Homo sapiens: one gene and its partner. The protein of the gene in region 1 interacts with the protein of each later gene in a biochemical or structural test. Each region holds a gene or a part of one and is shown in the gene's direction. Other genes may lie near its edges. The genes, in order: UBR2 and NTAN1.

The links.
Region 2: the proteins of UBR2 (region 1) and NTAN1 form a complex in vitro, tested with the Homo sapiens proteins (one study listed by BioGRID).

What each region holds. Positions count from the first base shown.
Region 1 is NC_000006.12:42,670,491-42,682,080, forward strand, and holds part of UBR2 (E3 ubiquitin-protein ligase UBR2), read left to right. Parts: intron 1-169; coding exon 170-225; intron 226-3,300; coding exon 3,301-3,397; intron 3,398-3,635; coding exon 3,636-3,703; intron 3,704-5,565; coding exon 5,566-5,701; intron 5,702-6,292; coding exon 6,293-6,383; intron 6,384-8,048; coding exon 8,049-8,179; intron 8,180-9,233; coding exon 9,234-9,342; intron 9,343-11,590. UniProt on the Homo sapiens protein: E3 ubiquitin-protein ligase which is a component of the N-end rule pathway.
Region 2 is NC_000016.10:15,050,272-15,062,486, reverse strand, and holds the start of NTAN1 (protein N-terminal asparagine amidohydrolase), read left to right. Parts: upstream 1-6,412; 5' UTR 6,413-6,515; coding exon 6,516-6,596; intron 6,597-6,672; exon of another isoform or gene 6,673-6,832; intron 6,833-12,215. Other genes in the region: RNA polymerase I-specific transcription initiation factor RRN3, read left to right, coding at 582-743. UniProt on the Homo sapiens protein: N-terminal asparagine deamidase that mediates deamidation of N-terminal asparagine residues to aspartate. Required for the ubiquitin-dependent turnover of intracellular proteins that initiate with Met-Asn.

The sequences.
Region 1 (11,590 bases):
GTTTTTACTTTGTAACCAAATTTAATTCTTGTGAAATGACTTTGAAGATTCTGAAACTTGACAATATTGTACTTTCTGTAGGATTGGGGTTTTTTTAACCTTTTTAAGAAAATTATATTAAAATATACATAACATAACATTTACCATTTTAACCATCTTTAATCTGTAGAAAGAATTTTGAGTGATGAAGATAAACCATTGTTTGGTCCTTTACCTTGCAGACTGGTAAGTTCTCAGTTTATTCAGTTCATGATAGTGGGGCATGGAAATTAGGTGGTTCTGCTGCTTTTAATCTTATGGACCTGCAGTAGTTACTTACACCTTCACTTCTTTCGTAGTAAAAACCCATTTTCTGTAAGGATATTAAAAAGTAATGTTTGTGGTTTAATCTTTCTTTTAAATAAACTTCAGGAGGCCGGGCGCAGTGGCCCACGCCTGTAATCCCAGCACTTTGGGAGGCCGAGGCAGGAGGATCACCTGAGGTCGGGAGTTTAAGACCAGCCTGACCAACATGGAGAAACCTCGTCTCTACTAAAAACACAAAATTAGCCAGGCGTGGTGGCGCATGCCTATAGTCCCAGCTACTCAGGAGGCAGAGGCAAGACAATCGCTTGAACCCGGGAGGCAGAGGTTGCGGTGAGCTGAGATTGTGCCATTGCACTCCAGCCTGGGCAACAAGAGTGAAACTCCATCTCAAAAAAAAAAAAAAAAAAAAATTGCAGCCTGGCAGTATAGTGAGACCTCATCTCTACACAAATTTTAAAATTGGCTAGGAGTGGTGGCGTGGCATGTACCTGTGGTCCCAACTACTTAAGAGGCTGAGTTGGGAAGATCACTGGAGCTGGGGAGGTTGAGGCTGCAGTGAGCCATGATTGTGCCCCTGTACTCTAGGCTGTGCAACAGCACAAGATCCTATCTTTAAAAAAAAAAAAAAGAAGAAGAAGAAGCAGAAGAATGTATATTCTAGCTCCACTTTCTTGCTAACCATTCATATTTCAACTCCTGCAGTTTGGCTCCACTTCTAACACTTTCTGACTTCTATGAAATATCTCTTTCCAAGTTCACCAAATGATCTCCTGATTATCATTTTGCGTGGGCATTTTTTAGCCCTTGTCTTTGAAACCTCTACTTAATTGCTCATTCTGAAACTTTTATTTCTCTCCATTCCTTCTTCATTCTGAAACTCAATTTTCCCTTAATTTCTGTGACACTCTTGGCTTTCTTTCTGCCTCTGTGGCTCCTGCCTCTCAGCCCACTCTCCCTCCTCCATCCTGCAGTTGTCATTTTTAAACCTCCAGAGTTCTGCCATCTAATACTCTTCCCTGGTCAGCCCCATCTATGCCTCTGATTTCAGTTATATCCAAATGATCCCCACCTGTGTATCTCCAACCCAGATCTTTATCTTAGGTGTAGGTTATCTCTGCCTATTTTTTTAACCTGGATCTCCTACACATACCTAAAATTCAATCCAAATTAATTTTTCTTCCTATAGTCCCTGTTTTAGTTAATTTCACCACTATTCATCCAGGAGAAACCAGAAAATTGAAGTCTTTTTTTTTTGAGATGGAGTCTCACTCTGTTGCTCAGACTGGAGTGCAATGGCACAATCTCGGCCCACTGCAGCCTCTGCATCCTGGGTTCAAGCGACTCTCCTGTCTCAGCCTCCCGAGTAGCTGGGATTACAGGTGCATGCCACCGTGCCCAGCTAATTTTTGCGTTTTTAGTAGAGATGGGGTTTCACCATGTTGGCCAGGCTGGTCTCAAACTCCTGACCTCAGGTGATCTGCCCATCTCGGCCTCCCAAAATGCTGAGATTGCAGGCATGAGCCACCATTCCCGGCCTAGATACATTTTTTAGCCTGGGCATTCACATTCAGTTGGTCAGCAGAGTCTGACAAATTCTCACCATTCCTTCTTCTACTTGTTTGGTTCAGCCCCATATTATTTCTTGCCTAGATTATCATAGCAGTTTTTACCCAGAATCTCACTCTTCTCTAATACGTTATTAGAGGGGCTCCTCAAAAGCAATCCTGTTCATATTCTTCATACTTTTACAAACTTCTTAACCTATTTCTCCATTATCACCTCCTGCCAGTTCCCACCCCTGTGGTCCAGACTTGTAGAATCACTGCCAGTTCCTCAATGCTAGTTCCCATGCCTTTGCACATTCCATTTCCTCTGCCTAGAGTACCCTAAGCAGACTGCTACTCTTTCAGATGCTGTTCAAGCTTTCCCTTCCCTTAGAAAGCCCTCTGAACCATGTACTGTGAGTTAGAGACCTCTCATCTGTGATGCCTGCCTCCTTCCCCACTTTCTTCCTTTCCCACCCCAGGACTTTAAGCTCTTTGAGAGCAGGAGGGGGAGAATGGGTTTTATTTGAAGATCTTCAGAACCAAGACCTAGTGTATATAGTAGGACCTCAATATTTATTGAACCAAACATTACAGAAAATTTGGAAAATGAAAAAACAAGCAGGAAGAAAAAAGTCATCAACTTATCACATACCCATCTTTTTCCATTAGCATATTTATGCTTGATTACAATTGGTACTCACATGTAGCTTTGTTTCTGCTGTATTCTTTAAATCAAGAGTTTTCTTATTACTGCTACTTAGTCCTCATAACAATTTTTAATAGCTGCAGGCACCCTCATTTGTACCACCATCTTCTTAGACAGTTTCCCCAATATTTGGAGTATCTCTTTAGGATACTCTACATTTTACGGAAGAGTATCCACATTTTAGAGGATCTCTTTAGGATAAACATAAGAGATATGTGTTTTAGGGTATCTGTTTAGGATAAACATAGAGAAATACTGCATCCGCATCTTGGCTTGTTTATTTGTTTTTTGAGATAGAGTCTCGCTCTGTTTTCCAGGCTGGAGTGCAGTGGTGTGATCTCAGCTCACTGCAACCTCTGCCTCCAGGGTTCAAGTGATTCTCCTTCCTCAGCCTCTCGAGTAGCTGGGATTACAGGTGTGAGCCACCACACCCGGCCTGCACTGGCATCTTGGGAGTGTCCCTTGCTTTCTGTCAGATGCGTATATTCTATATTCTTTTCTTTTCCAGAGAAAACCAGCAACATGGTGGCAAAGAGATAGATTTCATTTATTCAGCACACACTTAGACATTTCCCATTCCATTTATCCTGTGTTAGAGGCATGTCATTGAGATGTCATAGATCTAGTTCCATACCATCTAGAGCAGTTTCATTGTGCATCCAGCTGTGCTCTGAACTAGCATTCCTGAAAGAGAACTGCTTTGCATTTTTGTTTTTTGTTAATTGCGTTGGTTTATTTTAGGATGACTGTCTTAGGTCATTGACGAGATTTGCCGCAGCACACTGGACAGTGGCATCAGTTTCAGTGGTGCAAGGACATTTTTGTAAACTTTTTGCATGTGAGTATTAATACATTTATAACATGTTGTAATTTTTCATCCTCTGAAATTTTGTTTTTAATGGTACAGCTTCTCTCAGTAATGAATTAAATATTTAGTAGTACTGGTTTTCTTATATATAAGCTCTAGCTTATAAATTCTCATGTGTCTTGCAAGAAGATAAATTTAAAGCAGATTATATGCATTTTAACATGTTGGCATATGAAATATGCTAATGTATTTCTCTTTAAATCTGTAGCACTGGTGCCTAATGACAGCCATGAGGAACTTCCATGCATATTAGATATTGACATGTTTCATTTATTGGTGGGTATTGTGCAGTTTGTTTGGACTTCTACGTCATACTATGTAACTTTACCTTAGGTTTGGTGAGCAGTGTAGTGGCAGACAGGAAGGAGTTATGTGATTTCCTTACCCCTTCTGAGTATAATTCTTTTATGAGAAACCTCAAAAAGAAAATATTTAGGAACCTAGTTGAGAGACTTGACCTGGTTATCGAGACGTCCTCTGACTCTTATTTTGCTTTATGGCTGAGGTTAGTATTTTAACCTCTCTGTGCTTTTAACCTGTAAAGAGATAAAAACACCAGCAACGGGTCAGGTGTGGTGACTCATGCCTGTAATCCCAGCACTTTGCGAGGCTCACCCCAGATCACTTGAGGTCAGGAGTTTGAGAGCAGCCTTGCCAACATGGTGAAACCCTATCTCTACTAAAAATACAAAAAATTAGCTGGGCGTGGTGGCACATGCCTGTAATCTCAGCTACTCAGGAAAGTGAGACAGGAGAATCACTTGAACCCAGGAGGCGGAGGTTGCAGTGACCAAGATTGCATGACTGCACTCCAGCCTGGATGACAGAGCAAGACCCCATCCAAAAAAAAAAAAACAGCAACAGAAGCACTGCTGCTGGCCCATACAGTGCTTTTGTACATTTTCGAAAATCTGGCAGATACAGCCCTGTGGTCACACTACTTAGCAGCAGAGAGCCCCTTATAATTCAGGGAAAGGTATGTCCTCTGAGCCAGGACATCCTAGTGCTAAGACACACAGCTGTCCAAATAGTGGGTAGCCAAATTTCAGCCCTACCTCAACTGGGTTCCCTTGCACAGGGTACAGAGTGTACTGCCACACCCAGCAGCCCCGAGTGCTGTGCCTTTATTCTCTGGACCTCAGATTCTGCCCCTTTAAGTTGGTTAGTACCTACTTTATATGACTATGTCAGAACTCAGTGAGTTAATCCATGTAACACACTTAGAGCAATATATTCCTAATAAATGCGGCTATTACTGTTCTCATTGCTGCAACTAAAACCACCACCACTTATACTGCCATGCAGACAGCAGGAGGCCAACAGAGCTAGCATTTGTGTACCTGCCAGCTTTTACATACGTTCACACTTACATCTCTACAATTTACATGTAACATATTGTCTTTAGTTTACCAATAGGGAAACTGAGGCCTGATCAGAGATATTAATTTGTGTAAAACAGCTCATAAGAGGAGGAGGTAGGATTCATATCTAGATATTTATGGGTCCAAAACCCATGTTTTTTCAACTGCCTACAGTCCTGGAGAGAGTTCAGATACTGTTTTTGTTAACAATAAGCTATGTATAGAGGACCCACTGGATTAATGAAATCATAGTGCCCATCAAGAGTCCTGTAACTCAAGTCATTTCATGTAGCCAGTCCTATTGGATTTTCCAACATGGATGCCCTTTCTTTAAGAACAAAGATTTCTTAAAGGGAGGAGCTGAACTCAGGAGGGATCACAGTAAGAAAATGGAAATGTGACCAGGCGCGGTGGCTCACGCCTGTAATCCCAGCACTTTGGGAGGCCGAGGTGGGCGGATTACCTGAGGTCAGGAGTTCGAGACCAGCCTGGCCAACGTGGCAAAACCTCATCTCTACTAAAAATACAAAAAGTCGGGCATGATGTTGCACGCCTGTAATCCCAGCTACTCAGGAGGCTGAGGCAGGAGAATCGCTTGAACCCAGGAGGTGGATGTTGCAGTGAACCGAGGTTGCGCCATTGCACTCCAGCCTGGGCAACAGAGTAAGACTCTGTCTCAAAAAAAAAATCAAAATAAAAGTAAAAGTAAGAAGATGGAAATTTGCTTAGCTGTGAAAGGAAAGGCGATCTGTCTGATGTCCTGTGTTTGGTGCCTAGGTGGGCTTGGTGCTTGCATTTCCTGCGTTGCAGTGTCAGGATTTTTCAGGGATCAGCCTTGGCACTGGAGACCTTCACATTTTCCATCTGGTTACTATGGCACACATCATACAGATCTTACTTACCTCATGTACAGGTAACTCTTGCCTTTTTGTCAGTTTCTTGAAGGAAATACTTGAGTTTTCTGAGTTTTAAAAAAAGTATTAGAGGAAAAGGTATTTGGATGAGAATAACACATGAATAAGGCTGTTTTTTTCTGTGTATCTTCATATGAAAAGTTTTGAAACATTTCTTTCTCCTCTTAAAATTTCCTAGTAATGTGAATGTTTCTAGTTTTAATTTCATACATTCAGTAATATTTGTGTAGAATAGTAATTAAATCTTTTAGAATCTTATGTTTTAGAATGCCAATTTTGTTTTAACTTACATGTTTGTTAATGCCCACATGAATTCATCATTAAATTACGTTTTGCATTCAAAATTCTTGTTTTTCATACACTTTAAGACTATATTTATTTGATTTTACTTAAAACATGCCAGCTGGCTGTTTGGTTTGATTGAGATCAATACTGTGCTCCCACTTGAGGGATTACAATTTTGCATGTTTTCTAGGAATACTTCATGTTATATGTGAGTTTATGAATATATTTGCATGCTTAATGTCTTCAGTCCTTTTGATAACACTTAATTGGAAAATACAGAGTACTAGTATTTCCTTATCTTTCAGAAGAGAATGGCATGGATCAAGAAAATCCCCCTTGTGAAGAAGAATCAGCAGTTCTTGCTTTGTATAAAACACTTCACCAGTATACGGGAAGGTGAGTTAGTTATCTTTACATAACGCATTTCCCTAAATATTGCTAGATGATGATAGCATGAGAAAGGAATTCGTTTGTTAATTAGGGGAATTTGTTGTCTGTTGACATGTTTTTAAAATAAGACGTGGAGTGATCTGCAGAGCCTTTCTGAACTATTCATATACTAACATAATTGGAAATCTGGGAGAAAGGTGATAATATGCAGAGCTTCCCACATTTATTTGGCTGTGGAACCCTTCATTTGCTCAGGGATCTGGCAGAGACTAGAGGATAGATCAAATGTACTTTGGAAAGTTGATACTCTAAAACTTATGTTGTCTCATTCAGAATGGGAATTTAAAACTGCAAGTTAAATTGGCATAATTTATTTTTAAGGTAATATTCAGTAGTAGCAGGAATAAAATGAAATTATTAGAATTCCATGTATGGTTAGAGTCATGATTTGCTACAAATAGCAATTCAGTAGTTTGCTTAGCTTTCAACAGTATATATGTCAAGAATCTGTAGTCAGGAACCTATAAAAATGTCTGTTTTTTGACTATCCCATTTCTGAGAACCTACATTAACAAAATAATTCAACATATAGAAAAAAAACATATAGGCATATAAAGATGGACACTCCAGCCAGGCACGGTGTCTCACCCCTATAATCCCAGCACTTTGGGAGAATGAGGCTGGCAGATTGCTTGAGCCCAGGCATTTGAGACCAGCCTGGCCAACATGGTGAAACCCTGTCTCTACCAAAAAATACAAAAATTAGCCAGGCATGGTAGCATGTGCCTGTGGTTCTATCTTCTCAGGAGGTTGAGGTAGTCAGATCACCCAGGCAGGTGAAGGCTGCAGTGAGCCATCACACCACTGCACTCCAGACTGGACAAAAGAGTGAGACCCTGTCTCAAAAAGAAAAAGATGTACACTCTGATATTATTTATATTAGCAAATAATTGAAAGCAATCTAAGTGTTTGCAGGGGAATAGTTTGATATAGTGATGAATGTGTTCCAAAATATTATAAATCTATTTAAAATATGGCTCCTAGGAGCTGGGTGCAGTGGCATGTGCCTGTAGTCCCAGCTGCTCAGGAGGCTGAGGTGGGAGGATTGCTGGAGCCCAGTAGTTTGAGTCCAGCCTGGACAACTTTTCATTTTCCACATTTTCTCTTTATGTCACTATGTTACTTTTATAAATTTTAATAACATCACACCTGTAATCCCAGCACTTTGGGAGGCCAAGGCGGGCAGATCACAAGATCAGGAGATCGAGACCATCCTGGCTAACACAGCGAAACCCCGTCTCTACTAAAAATACAAAAAATTAGCCGGGCGTGGTGGCAGGCACCTGTAGTCCCAGCTACTCAGGAGGCTGAGGCAGGAGAATGGCGTGAACCCAGGAGGCAGAGCTTGCAGTGAGCCGAGATTGTGCCACTGCACTCCAGCCTGGGCGACAGAGCGAGACTCCGTCTCAAAAAATTTAATAACAGCATTGGAGGCTGTGTCACCACTTACACCTGGCATCCTATAATAACACACACCCACTTGCCTGTTAACTCACAACTTTTAAGCATACATGCCATCAGTTCCAAATGACAGTCAAGTCTGTTTTCACACTATAAGTACAGTGACCTTTTCTTAGTAGATTTCCCAATAATCTTTTTTTTCTTTTTTAGTGCCTTGAAAGAAATACCATCCGGCTGGCATCTGTGGAGGAGTGTCAGAGCTGGAATCATGCCTTTCCTGAAGTGTTCTGCTTTATTTTTTCATTACTTAAATGGAGTTCCTTCCCCACCCGACATTCAAGGTAATTTATACTTTCTTTCAAAACGTAGGGAGAGTTAGTAATCCTTTACTCCAGCAAATATAAAGATCACTTGCAAAAATGAAAATTGACTAAAAGTTCAAAGAATAGCTTATTGACTATGGTGATGTACACATTTATAGCATAAAATGTATGTTTATGCATATGTCTCCATTTATTTGGATCTCAGTAAATGACTGTTAAACTTCTGTGTAAATGTTTTTACACCTGCAAAGCCCTTCTCCCGTAAAGATCATAGTTTTGCTTTCAGATGTTAAAATGTTCAGTTATGTATTATTCATAAACAAGGTTCCTCAGATTTGAAAAGGTGAAAACTGACAATTTCAAGTGATTTTTAACTTGAAACATGCATAGCATTAAAATTTAGAATACCCATAATTGCACATAAATCTGATTTTAATCTGGGAATTGATTTGCTCTTTCATAGTTGTTTTCCATGTTCTGTTTTGATTCATTTCATAAAAGTAGTATGAATGTGGACTTGACTGTATCTCTGTATCCCACAGTGCCTGGCACTGGCCGTAGAGTACCTGCATGCAGTGCTACTCTCTGAAAGTTTGTCCACTGGCATTTCCATTTAGCTAGTTGCCTAGGAACCATATAAAAGAGTTTAGTCTTCCAGATTATTTGCAGTGATGATTAGAGTTGGTATTTAAATCTGTGTCTCGTGGTAAAACCATCTTGTATTTCTGTATTGGTTGATCCTTTTCCAGAGCACCCATACATTTTTATCATTTAATGTTCACAATAACCCTGTGCAGTAGATTGTGCAGGCACACCATTTTGCAAATGATAAAGCCGAGACACCAGGACATTGGGACCAGTTTGATGTAGGAGTCGCCTGACTGCACTTGACGCATTGCGTCATTTTCCATGGATTCCTTCCATGTGCCATTCTGTTAACTTCCTACAAGTTACGTACCTGGCAAATTGGAAGTCTTTCATCCTTTTTTTTTAAACTCTGCTATTGCTTAACTCTCATGCAGAATATGCCCTTAGTTGTTATATGCACTCTTTTCTTGTTCTTCATTTGCAGTTCCTGGAACAAGCCATTTTGAACATTTATGTAGCTATCTTTCCCTACCAAACAACCTCATTTGCCTTTTTCAAGAAAATAGTGAGATAATGAATTCACTGATTGAAAGGTAATGATTATATACTTTTCTTTGTTGTATTAAATAGCTCTATGGAACCAAACTTTAGTTATCACATATGTAGCAAAATTCTCAAGTAATGACCCTGGTAGAATTCAACACAAATAATTCAAACTATAATGGGTGGGCCTTTTGTTGTTGTTTGTTTTGTTTTGTTTTGTTTTTGTTTTTGTTTTTGTTTTGAGACTGAGTCTTGCTCTGTCACCCAGGCTGGAGTGCAGTGGCATGATCTTGGCTCACTGCAACCTCCACCTCCTGGGTTCAGGGGATTCTCCTGCCTCGGCCTCCCAAGTAGCTGGGGTTACAGGCATACACCACCATGCCTGGCTAGTTCTTTGACCACCATGTTGGTCAGGCTGGTCTCGAACTCCTGACCTCAAATGATTCACCCACCTCGGCCTTCCAAAGTGCTGGGATTACAGGTGTGAGCCACCGCACCTGGCCTATGAGTAGGCCTTTTTAGCTAAGGATCTGGCTTTTCAGTAAACTTTTTGCCAAGCTAGTGAATAGCATAAACAAATTTGCATGGAAGGGGAATAGTGGTAGAAATGTTGATTTCTTTACATGAACTTACTTGTTAAGGACTCTCTTCCATAGGTTTTTTCTTGTTTTTGTTTTTAAGAGATGGGGTTTTGCCATTTTTTCCAGACTGCCTTTGAACTCCTGGGCTGAGACATTCCTCCCACCTCAGCCTCCTGAGTAGCTGGGACTGCAGGCACATGCCATCACACTCAGCTTTTCATAGATTTTTAAAGCTGAAAGAACCCTTAAGGCTATCTAGTCCAATACCCTCAACTTTATATTTGAGAAAAGTGAAGTCTAGAGAAATTGGCCTGTCAATCATGTCAAGTTAGTGACTGAGTTAAATATATGGCTGTTCTGTCCACAAAACGGGGGAAAATATTTGCAAACTACATATCTGATAAGGGATTAACATCCAGAATAGGCCGGGCACAGTGGCTCACCCCTGTAATCCCAGCACTTTGGGAGGCAGAAGTGGGAGGATCACTTGAGCCCAGAAGTTCAAGACCAGCCTGGGGCGGGGGCGCGGTGGCTCACGCCTGTAATCCGCAGCACTTTGGGAGGCCCAGACGGGCGGATCACGAGGTCAGGAGATCGAGACCATCCTGGCTAACACGATGAAACCCCGTCTCTACTAAAAATACAAAAAATTAGCCAGGTGTGTTGGTAGGTGCCTGTAATCCCAGCTACTCGGGAGGCTGAGGCAGGAGAATGGCGTGAACCCGGGAGGCGGAGCTTGCAGTGAGCCGAGATCATGCCACTGCACTCCAGCCTGGGGGACAAAGCGAGACTCCGTCTCAAAAAAAAAAAAAAAAAAAAGAAAGACCAGCCTGGGTAACATGGCGAAACCCCATCTCTACAAAAAATTTAAACATTAGGCATGCTGACATGTACCTGTCAGGAGGCTGAAGTGGGAGGATCACTTGAGCCCTGGAGGTCGAGGCTACAGTGAGCTGCATGCCATTCCACTCCAGCCTGGATGACAGATCAAGACCCTGTATCAAAAGAAAAAATCCAGACTATATATATCCAGAATTCCTACAACAACAACAAAAATAAAACCCAATTAAAAAATAGGTAAAGGGCTTAAATAGGCATTTCTCCAAAGAAGATAAATAGCCAAAAAAGCATACGAAAAGATGCTCAACATCACTAGTCACTGGGGAAATCACACTGACATACCACTTCACACCCATTAGGTGAGCTATTACTTTTTTAAAAAAAGAAAATTACAAATGTTTACAAGGATGTGGAAAAACTGGTATACTGGTATCCTTGTGCATGGGATATAGAAAATGATAGAGCCACTACGGAAGACAGCATGACAGTTCCTCAAAAAGATAAACATAAAGTTACCTTATGATTCAGCAATTCCACTTCTAGGTACAGATTACAAAATAACTGAAAGCAGGAACTCAGATCAATATTATACACCCACATTTATAGCAGCATTATTCATGATAGCCAAAAAATGGAACCAACTCAGATGTTCAACAGATGAATGGATGCACAAAATGTGGTGTGTACACACACACAATGGACTATTATTCAGTCTTAAAAGTAGGCCAGGTGTGGTGGTGCACGCCTGTAGTCCCAGCTACTCGGGAGGCTGAGGCAGGAGAATCACTTGAACCTGGGAGGCGGAGGTTGCAGTGAGCCAAGATTACGCCACTGCACTCCAGCCTGAGTGACAGAGCAAGACTCTGTCTCAAAAAGA
Region 2 (12,215 bases), on another chromosome or scaffold:
TTGCTTGGGAGCACATTTGTTTTCTCATTAAAAGCAGCTTCAAGATGGCTTTTTTGTTGTTGTTTTTAATAAGTAATCATTGGAAAGCCCCTTTCATCTTTTTCTTTATGTTTCATTTGTTGAGGGGCGTGTAATTCATTCACATTGTGTTAGGTACAAGAGTTCCTAACACTGGGCAAGAATGACTCGTCATGTTTCCTGTCCCCATTGAGCTTCAAATCTGTTTGCAAGTCAGACTTGAAACAAATGATTACAATGTGTGATGAGCAGTTATGTGGGTATGTTGGTAAGAAGGAAGTGCTTATCAGAGGGAGCTTTTGTTCTGTTCTGTTTTTCTAGAGACATGGTCTCGCTATGTTGCCCAGGCTGGATTCGGAACTCTTGAGCTCAAGCAGTCCTCCCACCTCCACCTCCTGAGTAGCTGGGACTACAGGCGTGTGCCACTACACTGGCTTTCTTTTGAAATTAAGATATTTTCTTCACCATCTTTACAAACGTTAACACCTTCCTGAGGAAGGAATTGTTGAAAGCTTTTCAGTCAGCACTGGTGATGTTACTGATGATTTCTGATGTTTCTGCAGGACATAGTGGAAGATGAAGATGATGACTTTCTGAAAGGCGAAGTGCCCCAGAATGATACCGTGATTGGGATCACACCAAGCTCCTTTGACACGCATTTCCGAAGTCCTTCAAGTAGTGTGGGCTCCCCACCCGTGTTGTACATGCAACCCAGTCCCCTCTGACGGCAGAAATTTGTGACTGAGATGTGACATTTGGGATTCCCCATCACTTGTCATGCCCTCAGCACCCAGCTTGTGCCATTGGGCATTGATGGCATTGAACTAGAGCGAGTGCCTGCCTCGGCTGTGGCACTTCCAGGTTCGACTGAATCAAGCATCTGAAGACTGGGTTTTTTTGTTGTTGTTGTTCCCCTTACAGACAAAATGAAGACTATCATGTGCAATCTTTTACAGTGGGGTTGATGATACATTTGGAAGGATTTGCTTGTTTAATATGTACATTTTTTGTGTTAACAGCTTTTTGACACAATTACTGGGTAATTTCTAATATAGGCAGCAGACTGTTTTACGGGTTGCTGTTTTAACATGGGTTTTTGTCAGATCCATGGTCTTAGGACTTGACTGATGAGCTTTCAGTGAAGAATCCTCTAAGATAAAACTTCTATTTAAAGACTTTAACTAGAAAGTGTTTATTTTGGCTACATTGTTCACCTTCTGCTGTATTGGTATTTGTCTGTTGGGATTTCAAGGGAGTGTAGAGAAGACAGAAGGAAAGCTGAGAGCTGGCCCGACATGGTCTGGGACACAGAGTTGGAGCTGGCACTGAAGATCTCCAGGGACTTCAGAGACCAATAAAAGCCCATAGGGAAGAGAGAGAGGATATAGGGAAACAGAATCAGATGTGTAATATACTTGGCACAGCGAAAAAATGGATTTAAAAGACAAAAATGGAGGTCCAGGTAGATGTAATTCACACAGACTGAAAGTGAGTTCGGGCTTGTGTAAAACACATGAGATTGGATTTGACCCCTTGGCTCTCAAGTGTCCCCTTAGATCTAGAACTGCTCCTTGGTGGCCATTAGATCGAGTCAGTTTTGATCTGCATCACTTAGTTATTGGGAATTTCTTTGTTGGAAACAGGAAAATTTTTTTAGATTATTTGGTGTACGGTTTTGCTCACAACAATAGGTGGAAGTTGCTAGTGCAGTCTTGGTCTGATGGCTGTGTGCATCGCACATTCGGCTTGGTGAAATCCTTCTCTAAAGCCTCTTTTTGTATTTTTATAACTAAACAGAGGAAGTCTTCAGAAGACCTCGCTTTAAAACAAATTTGTGCAAACACTGCTAGAGTCATTTTGAAGCTCAAGCATTTTCACTTTGTTTCTTACATGTGTACTTTTTTGTTTACTTGTGAAAATGGCCATCTTTAAGCATATTTATTTTCTGCCACTTTATTTAAAGGCAAGCAATATTTTCTTGATCATAAATATTTTGTAATGAAATACTTCCTCTTTTCCAGGGCTTTGTATGCACTTGTATAATTACATTGATGGCAATGTAGAGTTTGAATTTCAGTCTGTAAATACTTTTTTGGAAAATAGAAATTTTTATTGCTTTAAAGTTTTGGATATGGGTGGTTTTCTTTTCCGGGTTTGGTGGAAAGTAATTTGAGAACTTTAAGGTTGTCTTTTTAACTGCTGGCAAAATGTTGATTTTTTAATATTAGATAAAACGAGTAAACGAAATTCCCCAGAAATTAGTAGTAAGTGGGGTCTTTGTGGGTTGGGAAGTAGTTTTAATGTAGAAAGACATTTACATATAAGTCTGTTTAATTTCAAAGGAGTTTGTGAAAAAAAATCCATGGTGAAAATGAAACAATGACATGGTTAATCTGGAACTTACGTTCTTATACCAATAAAAGGTACCTCAATACATGTTCTTTCAATTTCTGTTTTGTTTTTTTTTTTTTAATTTAATGTATTAAAGCATTTTGCAGTGGAAAACTCCTGAGGCATTGCTGTTGAAGAGGGAGAAATAGTGCTGGTGTGGCGGGGAGCTTGATGGAATTCATTGCATGCCGGGGTGAGGATGGTTTCCGTGTGCACTATATGAAGTATCCGCGACTCTCCTTAATCACACCCAGCAAAGAGTGATTGAGGCTTGAGCAGGTCCAAGGGAAGCAGACACTTCTTTCAAAAAGTTACATGCTTTGAAGGGACATCTATGGGGAAAAATACTGTGAAATCTCCTTATAAATTACATGCCAACAATGGGAATTTTTCCTTTCACTAAAAAGCTGTCAGTTGTAGGAGTCTCCAGGGTCTGTCCTTTTGTCTGTGTGCTCTGGTTTGGTCTTCCTTGATGAGAAGTGGCTGAATTTTTACAAGTCAACTTACCAAGTGCCATGGGCTTCCTTTCCTAGCTAGCTGTTTGACGTTGAGCAAGTTACCTAACCTCTCTGAGCGCTAATTAAACTGTAAAATGGGAATAAGATACTAGTGTAAGGCTTTAAGGATTCGATGCATGTACAAGTTAATGGCTGTTGTTTTCTTGCAAGAAAGGAAGCACTTCCATGGGAAGTTTTTTTTGGTTAAAGATAACTTCTATTTCTTCCATAATACCTACCTCCCTGGTACCAACTTAGATCTGAACTGGAGAGGAGGAACCAGCGTGTTTCCCTTGCCGGGCAGTGCTTACGATGGTGGTTCTTAACCCTGGCTGTGCCCTAGAATCAGTCCCTTGGAGTGCTGAGAAACTAAGGATGCCCAGGCTCACGTCACACACCAACTCAACCTTTGATTGAATCAGTCTCCAGAAGAGGGGTCTGGACATGGATGGTTTTTAAAGCCCCCTGGTGATTCGAAGGTGCAGGCTGCCTTGAGAACTGTTCATTGGTGTACAACTGCATACTTTTCTTGTTTCAACTAATTGAACATCCAAAGCTCCACCATGTTTTCTTCCATCAAATGCTTTTGTGTGTTTCAGTCTGACTCTGGATGGTTGAGTAGGATTTATAATGTATCTAATAATTTGGGGCCAGGTGTGGTAGCTCATGCCTGTAATCTGAGCACTTGGGGAGGCCAGCAAAAGGATCTCTTGAAGCCAGGAGTTTGAGATCAGCTGGGGCAACATAGTGAGACCCCCATCTCTACATTAAAAAATTTGAAACACAAATTGGGATCCTTTCACTAAATATTTACTAAGGTTCTGTATAATGTTCATCATTCTTTTTTTTGAGACAAGAGTCTCACTCTGTCACCCAGGCTGGAGTGCAGTGGTGCAATCACAGCTCAACAACTGCAACCTCCGCCTCCTGGGCTCAAGTGATCCGCCCACCTCAGTCTCCTGAGTAGCTGGGACTACAGGTACGCACCACCATGCCTGGCTAATTTTTGTATTTTTAGTAGAGATGGAGTTTCACTATGTTGGCCAGGCTGGTCTTGAACTCCTAACCTCAAGCAATCTGTCCGCCTCGGCCTCCCAAAGTGCTGGGATTACAGGCGTGAGCCACCATGTCTGGCCTCAAAAAAGTGTAATTTAAAAAATATTTCCCTGTATATATTCTTTGAACTTTGCCATCAGCCATCTTGTGAGGCAGGTTGGTTTCCTATCTTAAAGAAACAGGCTTTCCAACATTGTAATTAGTGCTTTCTTTTTCTTTTTCTTTTTTTTTTGAGACGGTCTTGCTGTAATCACCCAGGCAGGAGTGCAGTGGCACAGTCGTGCCTCATTGCAGCCTTGACCTCTAGGGCTTGATTGATCCTCCCGAGTAGCTGGGACTACAGGCCTGCCACCATGCCCAGCTAATTTTTGTATTTGTTGGAGAAGCAGGGATCCCTGTGTTGTCCAGGCTCGTCTCGAACTTCTGGGCTCAAGTGAGTCCTCCTTCGGCCTTTCAAAGTGCTGGGGTTACAGGCATGAGCCGCAGTGCTGGCCACACACCTGCTATTGCTTCCTCATTGCCTGTAGACCAAAATTTGTGGAGCTGGGTGGGAAGAGAGGTAGGGGAGTGGTTTCCTGCTTGTTATCTGGCTCATTTAGTCCTTTAACACAGTACTCAGCCTAGGAGATTGATAACCTGAGATTACTTGAAAAAAGATCACCCAAAAGTGAAAAACCAGTTAGGCAAACTGCACCAGCCCCAGGCAGAACCCACAGAACCTTGTTCTTCACCTTTGCACTTCCAAATGCCTCACTTTGATTGACTACTCTTTGCTCTGCAATTCCAATAATAGCTATCTTTAGTGTTTAGTATGTACCAGGTGAAACAAACATGCTATTCTACAAAACCAGTTCAGGGAAGTTAAGTAACTTGCTCCAGGCCAGCCTGCTGGTCATTGATCACCCTGGTTTCAAACCCTGTTTTTAGCTCCGAGCTTCCTAGTTGGGACTTACTTAATGTCACCTGCATTAGAATGAGTTGTTTACAGTACAGTCTAGGAGCATCTTATAGTGATGGAGAGCACTGCCTTTGGAATCATGCAAAGCTAGGTTCAGTCTTCGTTCTACTACTTATTTCTACCACTTTGAGCAAGTTACTGTATCTGTTATAACGGAGGTGTTGATAGTAGCTCCTACATTTGTGAGGACAAATGACAAATGAGGTGTTGATAGTAGCTCCTACATTTGTAAGGACAAATGAGAAATGTAGGTGTAATAATACAGAGAAATAATTTCCTGGTAGCTAGAAATAGAGTTATTTTGGGTGAGAAGTTGGGTAACCTGGCGATGGGAACACCATCTTCTACAGTCATTTCTTTAGTAAATTTCCTGGTATTTTTGTTGAACGGGGTGTGTAAGCTGAGGGGGAGATTTATGAAAGAAGACGATGAATACAGATGATAAAATTCTAATAAAGTTTCTGCTGTATCATGTGGCTCCTCTGTATCTTTTGTAAAATTACTTTTTGTTAATGTGCTGCAGAGTTGGATGAATTTGAGCAATATTTCCAAGTTTTAGAAGAGAGCTCCACGGTGAGACGCCTCTCACCTTGGGGACCTGTCCTCAGATTAGGGGCTCTGCAGTCAGTATCCGCAAATCCTTCCCCCACGGTTCCCAGCCCACCTGTGAGTGGCCTATTGCATTCCAATCACGACGTGTTAATCGATGATCTCTTTAGTACGTGGGGCTAGCACAGTTCAGGATCTATTTTCTCAGTTTAAGACCGTTTACATTTATTTTTATTATTTTCAGAAACAGAGTGTCCCTCTGCAGTGCCCAAACATAGCTCATTGCAGCCTCCCACTCCTGGGGTCAAGAGATCCTCCCGCCTCAGCCTACAGAGTGGCTGGGATCACAGGTGCATGCCACCGTGCCCAGTTAATTTTTAAATTTTTGGCAGAGACGAGGGTATGGGGGAGGGTGGGTCTCACTATGTTGCCCAGGCTGGTCTCGAACTCCTGGCCTCAAGCGATCCTCCTGCCTCGGCCCCCCAAAGTGCTGGGATTACAGGCGTGAGCCACCGTGCCCGCCTGATTAGGTTTATTATTACTCATTGAATGCAATCCTACGGAGCTGCACAGCAGGGTCCCAAACTCAAGCTTGTGGAAGGTCACACACCTGGGAAGCGTGGAGCAATGACCTAAAGCGCAGCAGTCGGAGCCAGAACCCGCCCCAGGAACTCGCCCGGAGGCTCTCTTGGCTGGTGCAGCTGCTCCCTGGCAGCTCTCCTTTCCCCGCTCCTTCACTCCCACGCTTTTGGGACTACACTTCCCAGCGCCCCTTGCGGAGGAGGCGGGCCGCGCGCTGCTTCCAGGGCCACTTCCTGGCTTTGGACTACATTTCCCGTGAGGCCTTGCGGCCATGTCCTGGATTTCTCCAGTCTCTTCGGCCGGCACCGCCTCCGCCTGGACTCCACTTCCCGGCAGCGCCCGCGGTGGGGCGGGGCAGGACGAGGCGGGACGCGCGGCCCGAGGGGCGGGGGCGGCGGGCGGCCCGGGGCTGCAAAGCGGGGGGCCGCCGCCTCCCTGGGCCTGCCTGGGCGGCCGCCTCCGCGATGCCGCTGCTCGTCGAGGGGCGGCGAGTGCGGCTGCCGCAGTCAGCCGGGGACCTCGTCCGAGCCCACCCGCCTTTGGAGGTGAGTGGGGCGCGGCGCGGGGCTTCGGGGCGGGCCCGAGGGGAAGCTGCAGGGCGGGCTAGCGCCCCCCTCACGCGACACAGACTTGAAACTTGGCGCTGTTGGCACATCCGGAGCCCCGGCCGTCGGCTCGCGTCTTCCCCTTGAGGGGTCGGGGAGTTTTTGCCTTCTTTAGACTTCAGCGGGCTGCCCCGGAGGCCACTCTCTGACAAGGGAGGGGACGGGGGCCCAGAGAGGTTAGGTGACTTGCCCAAGGTCGCACAGCACTGCGGCTCGGGGACACGCCGGGACCCCCATTCCCCGACGGGGCGGCTGCAGCCCCCATAGGGCTGGGTCCGTTTAGGCAAATCCGGCCGCCCGCCTTCGGGGACCCGCAGCCTGCGGTGAACGTTGCTTCGTCCTTGCGTCCCCGTGAAGCAGGAGGTTATTCCAGGGTGGGCTTCGGAGAGCGTTTGGCCTGGGGGATCTTGGCGGGGACCCCCAGTCCTTCCTCCTCTCTCTCCCCTACCCCCGGGGCGTAGGGCGCCGAGTTATTTTTAGCCGGGAGAGAGAGCCCTGCTTTCCGCAGCTGGGCCATAGGACCACGCCCTGATGCACGGGTTTTGTTTTTGTTTTTTCTGCTTTTGTGCTCAAATAGATCTCTGAACTCTTGTCCACGCTTATGCAGGGACTGTTGGCAAGGGGGTTCTCAGGTTTTAAAAAGAGCGGGGCGTGGCGGCGGGGGCAGACGTCCTATTTGCCATAGATCCTGTTAAAGGGGAATCAATCAGTTCCTTGATTTGAGAGTCAAATATCGAGCCCCTAATATCTGTTGGGCAACGTACTGATCACTGTCCCTGCCCTCGGAGTGTTTATAGTCTAGAAGGGAGAATGGTTTCTGATGAAGAAGGCTCAGATACTATAAACTGTTAAGTACCATAAAGAAAAAGCGTCCCCTTTCACTCTGAGATGGGAAGCACAGGAACCTGACCAAGTGTGTTGGGTTGGGGAAGGCATTTAGAGGTTTCATCTGTCACAGCTGTACAGTTTGTGATTATTTTGTTTGCTTGTTTGTTCTCTATTGGTCTGTCGCCAGAATGTAAGCCTCCTGAAGGCAGATAAGAGTAGTGTCCTCACTTTTGTATCCTCAGAGTGTAGGACGGTCCCTGGCATAGAATTGGCGCTCAGTAAAGATTTGCTGCATAAATGAGGTCACAAAATGACCCCTGAACGTGTTCTGAAGGGTGACAAGGACTTACTGACGGGGAGAAGGCAGACAGCTCTGTGTGATTCTCAGCTTGCATTTCAGGACCGACCATCGTCTGTTAGCCAACATGCACCGAGCTAGGCGTGGTGGCGTGTCACTTTATCCTTGCGTTGTGTTACTGTCCTGTTAGCTAGCGAAGTCAAGAGTAGGACTCACCAAGGAAAAATAATTTCAGCCGCCTGAAGAATTTAGGGGATGCTCTACTTTTATGTCTGTTTGAAAATGTCCGTGATAGAAAGTTAGATGGGTGTCCCGGGCTGCACACTTAAGTGTGGAGGGAGATTTGGTGACATACCGGGGCTGCTTCTCTCGAAGGAAGGTTTTGGCCTATTTAAGAAGACATGTCCTAGAAAGGCTGTGTACTGGGGACCAGTTTGTGTTACAGGAACTTTGGAAGGGGGCGATCACTTTGATTTGCGGCAGTGTAAGTGAAGAAGGATGCAGGCACGAGAGAGATTTGAAAAGGAGAAGAAGGGTGAGGGCATCGCAGCTGGGCAAGCCGCCTGGGGCGCGGCGGGCAGGAGGGGAAGGGCCCAGTGGGTGGGTGTCCTGGCCAGTTTCTCCGGAGCAGCCCGGGTGAGGAGGGGAAGCATGGAAAGTAACCTTACAGGGGTGGATTGTACCCAGATGACCAAATGACCAAGGGGCTTAGATGGACCTTTCACCTACTTAGCAACAGGGAGACATTAAAGGTTGGGTTTTTTGTTTGTTTGTTTGGTTGGTTGGTTTTTTTGAGACTTAGTTTTGTTCTGTGGCCCAGGCTGGATTGCTGTGGCACAATCTCGGCTCACTGCAACCTCTGTCTCCCAAGGTTCAAGCGATTCTCCTGCCTCAGCCTCCCAAGTAGCTGGGATTACAGGTGCATGCCACCACACCCAGCTAATTTTTTTATTTTTAGTAGAGACGGGTTTTCACCATGTTGGCCAGGCTGTTCTTGAACTCCTGACCTCAAGTGATCTGCCCGTCTCGGCCTCCCAAAGTGCTGGGATTACCGGTGTGAGCCACTCCACCTGGCCTGGATTATTTTTATATAATAAAACAGGGTGTCCTCTTTGTAGGAAAGCAAAATATAATAATACAGAAAAAAAAGTATGACTACAACCATTCTTTAGTTTGGTGAAAGTCCTAATGAAGGTTTTTCTTTGTATATAATTTACTTTTTTTAAAAAAATGATAGCTTACTATATGTTGTTTTATAATGTGTCTTTTTCATGTAACGATGTGTTCTGAGTATGGAGTACCAACAGTTAGAAGCCTGTGTGTAGCTATGACTAGCAAATAATAACAATAAGTCATACAGTGGAAGCTGCCAAGCACCACAGCAAGAGTTACTGCTATTCCCATTTTACAGATGAGGACTGTGGGGCACAGAGAGGCTGGGAAACTGGCCCCAGGCCCCACATCCTGGGAGTGGTGAAGCCAGGATTGGAACCCTGGCAGCCTGCCCTTGACTCTGGAGCTGCGCTATTCAGTACAGTAGCCACGAGCCATCTGGTTACTTAGGATTTAACTTAAAAATCAATTAAAATTAGATAAAATTGAAACTCAGTTCCTCAGTTGCAGTAGCCACATTTCAAGTGCCGAGCAGACAGCATGGCTACTAATGAGACAGTGTGAATATAGACGGTGGCCATCCCAGCATGAAGTTCCTTTGGCCAGAGCTGTTTAGAGCCCTCCCTTAGTCACTCTTAACCAGTCACTGGGTACTCGGTAACCAGTCCTGCAACATCTTGGGTAATACGGTTCCACAGAGTCTACAAGATGCTCGCAGCGTAGCTTAGTTCCTGCTTTTATTATTTATTTATTTATTTTTTTTTTGAGAGACAGAGCCTTGCTCTGTCACCCAGGCTGGAGTGCAATGGCACGATCTTGGCTCACTACAACCTCTGCCTCCCAGGTTCAAGTGATTCTCCTGCCACAGCCTCCTGAGTATCAGACATCTGCCACCATGCCCGGCTAATTTTTGTATTTTTAGTAGAGATGGGGCTTCAACATGTTGGCCAGGCTGGTCTGAAACTCCTGACCTCAAGCGATCATCTCGCCTCGGCCTCCAAAGTGCTGGGATTACAGGCGTGAGCCAGTGTGTTGGGCCTCATAATTTCTTATATAGCATTGTGCTTTACAGTTCACAGATCACCTTCATGCCCCTCTCCTGTTTATAAAGGAAGAATTGATAAACAGGACAGCAGGGGTGAGGGTCACATGATCATCCCCCAGGTCACAGCTAGGTGATTGGCTAAGACACAGGTCAACAAGCCACAGCTCATGGGCCGGACCCTGCTTATGTATAGCCTATAGGCCAAGAATGGTCTTTATATTTCTCAAAGGTTGAGAAAAATCAAAATAATATTTTGTAACATGGGAAATGGTATTGAAATTAAAACTTCGGTGTCACCTATAAATAAAGTTTTATTGGAACACAGCCACATCTGTATTGTCTATGGCTGCTTTCACTTCATAATAACAGCAGAGTTGAGCAATTGTGACAGAGACTGCGGCCTTGTAGAACCCCAAATATTTACTGTCTGGCCTTTTTCAGAAAATCTGCTGGTCACTGGGTTAAGAGAATACTGCCATTGAATAGGAACTGGGAAATAGGGATGAGGGACTGAGGGAAAAGCTTTTTTTTTTTTAAGCAAATATTAGTGTCTAGAGCATATTAGAGGTTAAGAAAACTGGGACTACTTGCATATGAATTTATAAAGTAGGACTGTGTGGTTTTCCAAAGAAGGGAAGTTTGGCTAAACTCTTTTTACTACTTAAAAGAGCAAAAATTAGCCAAGTGTGGTGGCGTGCGCCTGTGGTTCCAGCTACTGCAAAGGAGGCTGAGGTGGGAGGATTGCTTGAGCCCAGGAGTTTGAGGTTGCAGTGAGCTATGATCTGGCCACAGCACTTCAGCCTGGGCAACAGAGTGAGGCCTTGTCTCTAAAAAAAAAAAAAAAAAAATTAAAAATAAAGTAGAGGCTGGGCACAGTGGCTCATGCCTATAATCCTAGCACAAGTGTGGTGGCGTGCGCCTGTGGTTCCAGCTACTGCAAAGGAGGCTGAAGCAGGAGGATCACCTGAGGCCAGGAGTTCGAGACCAGCCTGGGCAACACAGGGAGACCCCATCTCTACAAACAGTACAAAAACTAGCCAGGTGTGTCGGCTCATGCCTGTAGTTCCCAGCTCCTTGGGAGGCTGAGGTGGGAGGATTGCTTGAGGCCAGAGGCTGCAGTGAGCCACGATCTCGCCGCTGCACTCCAGCCTGGGAGACAGTAAGACCCTGTTTAAAAAAAGAAATTAAAAAATAGAGCAAAGCAGTCTACTGTTTTAGTTTTCTGGCATTCTCTCTTCTGATAATTTTTGCTTTTATTTCTTTGGGAAATCGTAGGAGCTGTGTTGAAGAGAGACATGATTTTTGGTCTTTGTGAAAGCAGTAATTAATTTCTCACAAATAGCTTTGCTTTTGAGTGGTGACCCAATTGTGAACATGAGTGTTAAAAATTCGCCTTTGCGCCCTCCCTTCTCTTCCCTTCCCTCAAAGAACAAAGCAGAAGGTAAGTATCTCAGGAGTAATCAAGAGGGAATTCTGAATTCTCCCCTGTTATTCTGAACTAAGATGAGGCAAGAAGTGGAATGAGAAAATGAGAGGCTGTCACCTGTACAGGTGTTCTGAGTTTTAGAGCAGTCACACCTGTTTCTCACTGACTTCTGGAGCAAGCAAGGCTGTCTTGCCCATCTAATTTTACACTGCAGTTCATTTAATCTTTAGTTTGTTTCTTAAATTAAGGGGCTTGTCTCATTTTCATTGATACCTTGCTTCCAGTTAATGGAAGTTTATAAACAGAAGAAAACACCATGTAAGTAATCAAGCTGATCATTATGTTTATTACATCTCTTCTTTTAGTTTAATCTTAATTTTTTTTTTTTTGAGGCAGGGTCTTGGTCTGTCACCCAGGCTGGAGTGCAGTGGTGCAATCATGGCTCGCTGCAGCCTCCACCTCCTGGCTGCAAGTGATCCTCCTACCTGAGCCTCCAGAGTAGCTGGGACTACAGGCACATGCCACCACACCCAGCTAATTTTTGTAATTTTTGTAGAGACAGGATCTTCCTTGTTGCCCAGGCTGGTTTTGAACTCTTAGGCTCAAGCAGTCCTCCCTCCTCAGCCTCCCAAAGTGCTGGAATTACAGTTGGGAGCCATCACACCCAGCTGCTCTTATGTTTTATTAAGTGAGCGCTAACCTAAATTAGCACCAGTCATGCGAAATGGCAAGAAGCTGATAGAAGACTAAGACTGCAAAACTGTCTTCCTGTGTAGGCAATACATACATACGTTGTCTAGACATTTGAGGAAGATTTTGTTCATCCAGGAGTTTGTTGCAAGTAAGAAG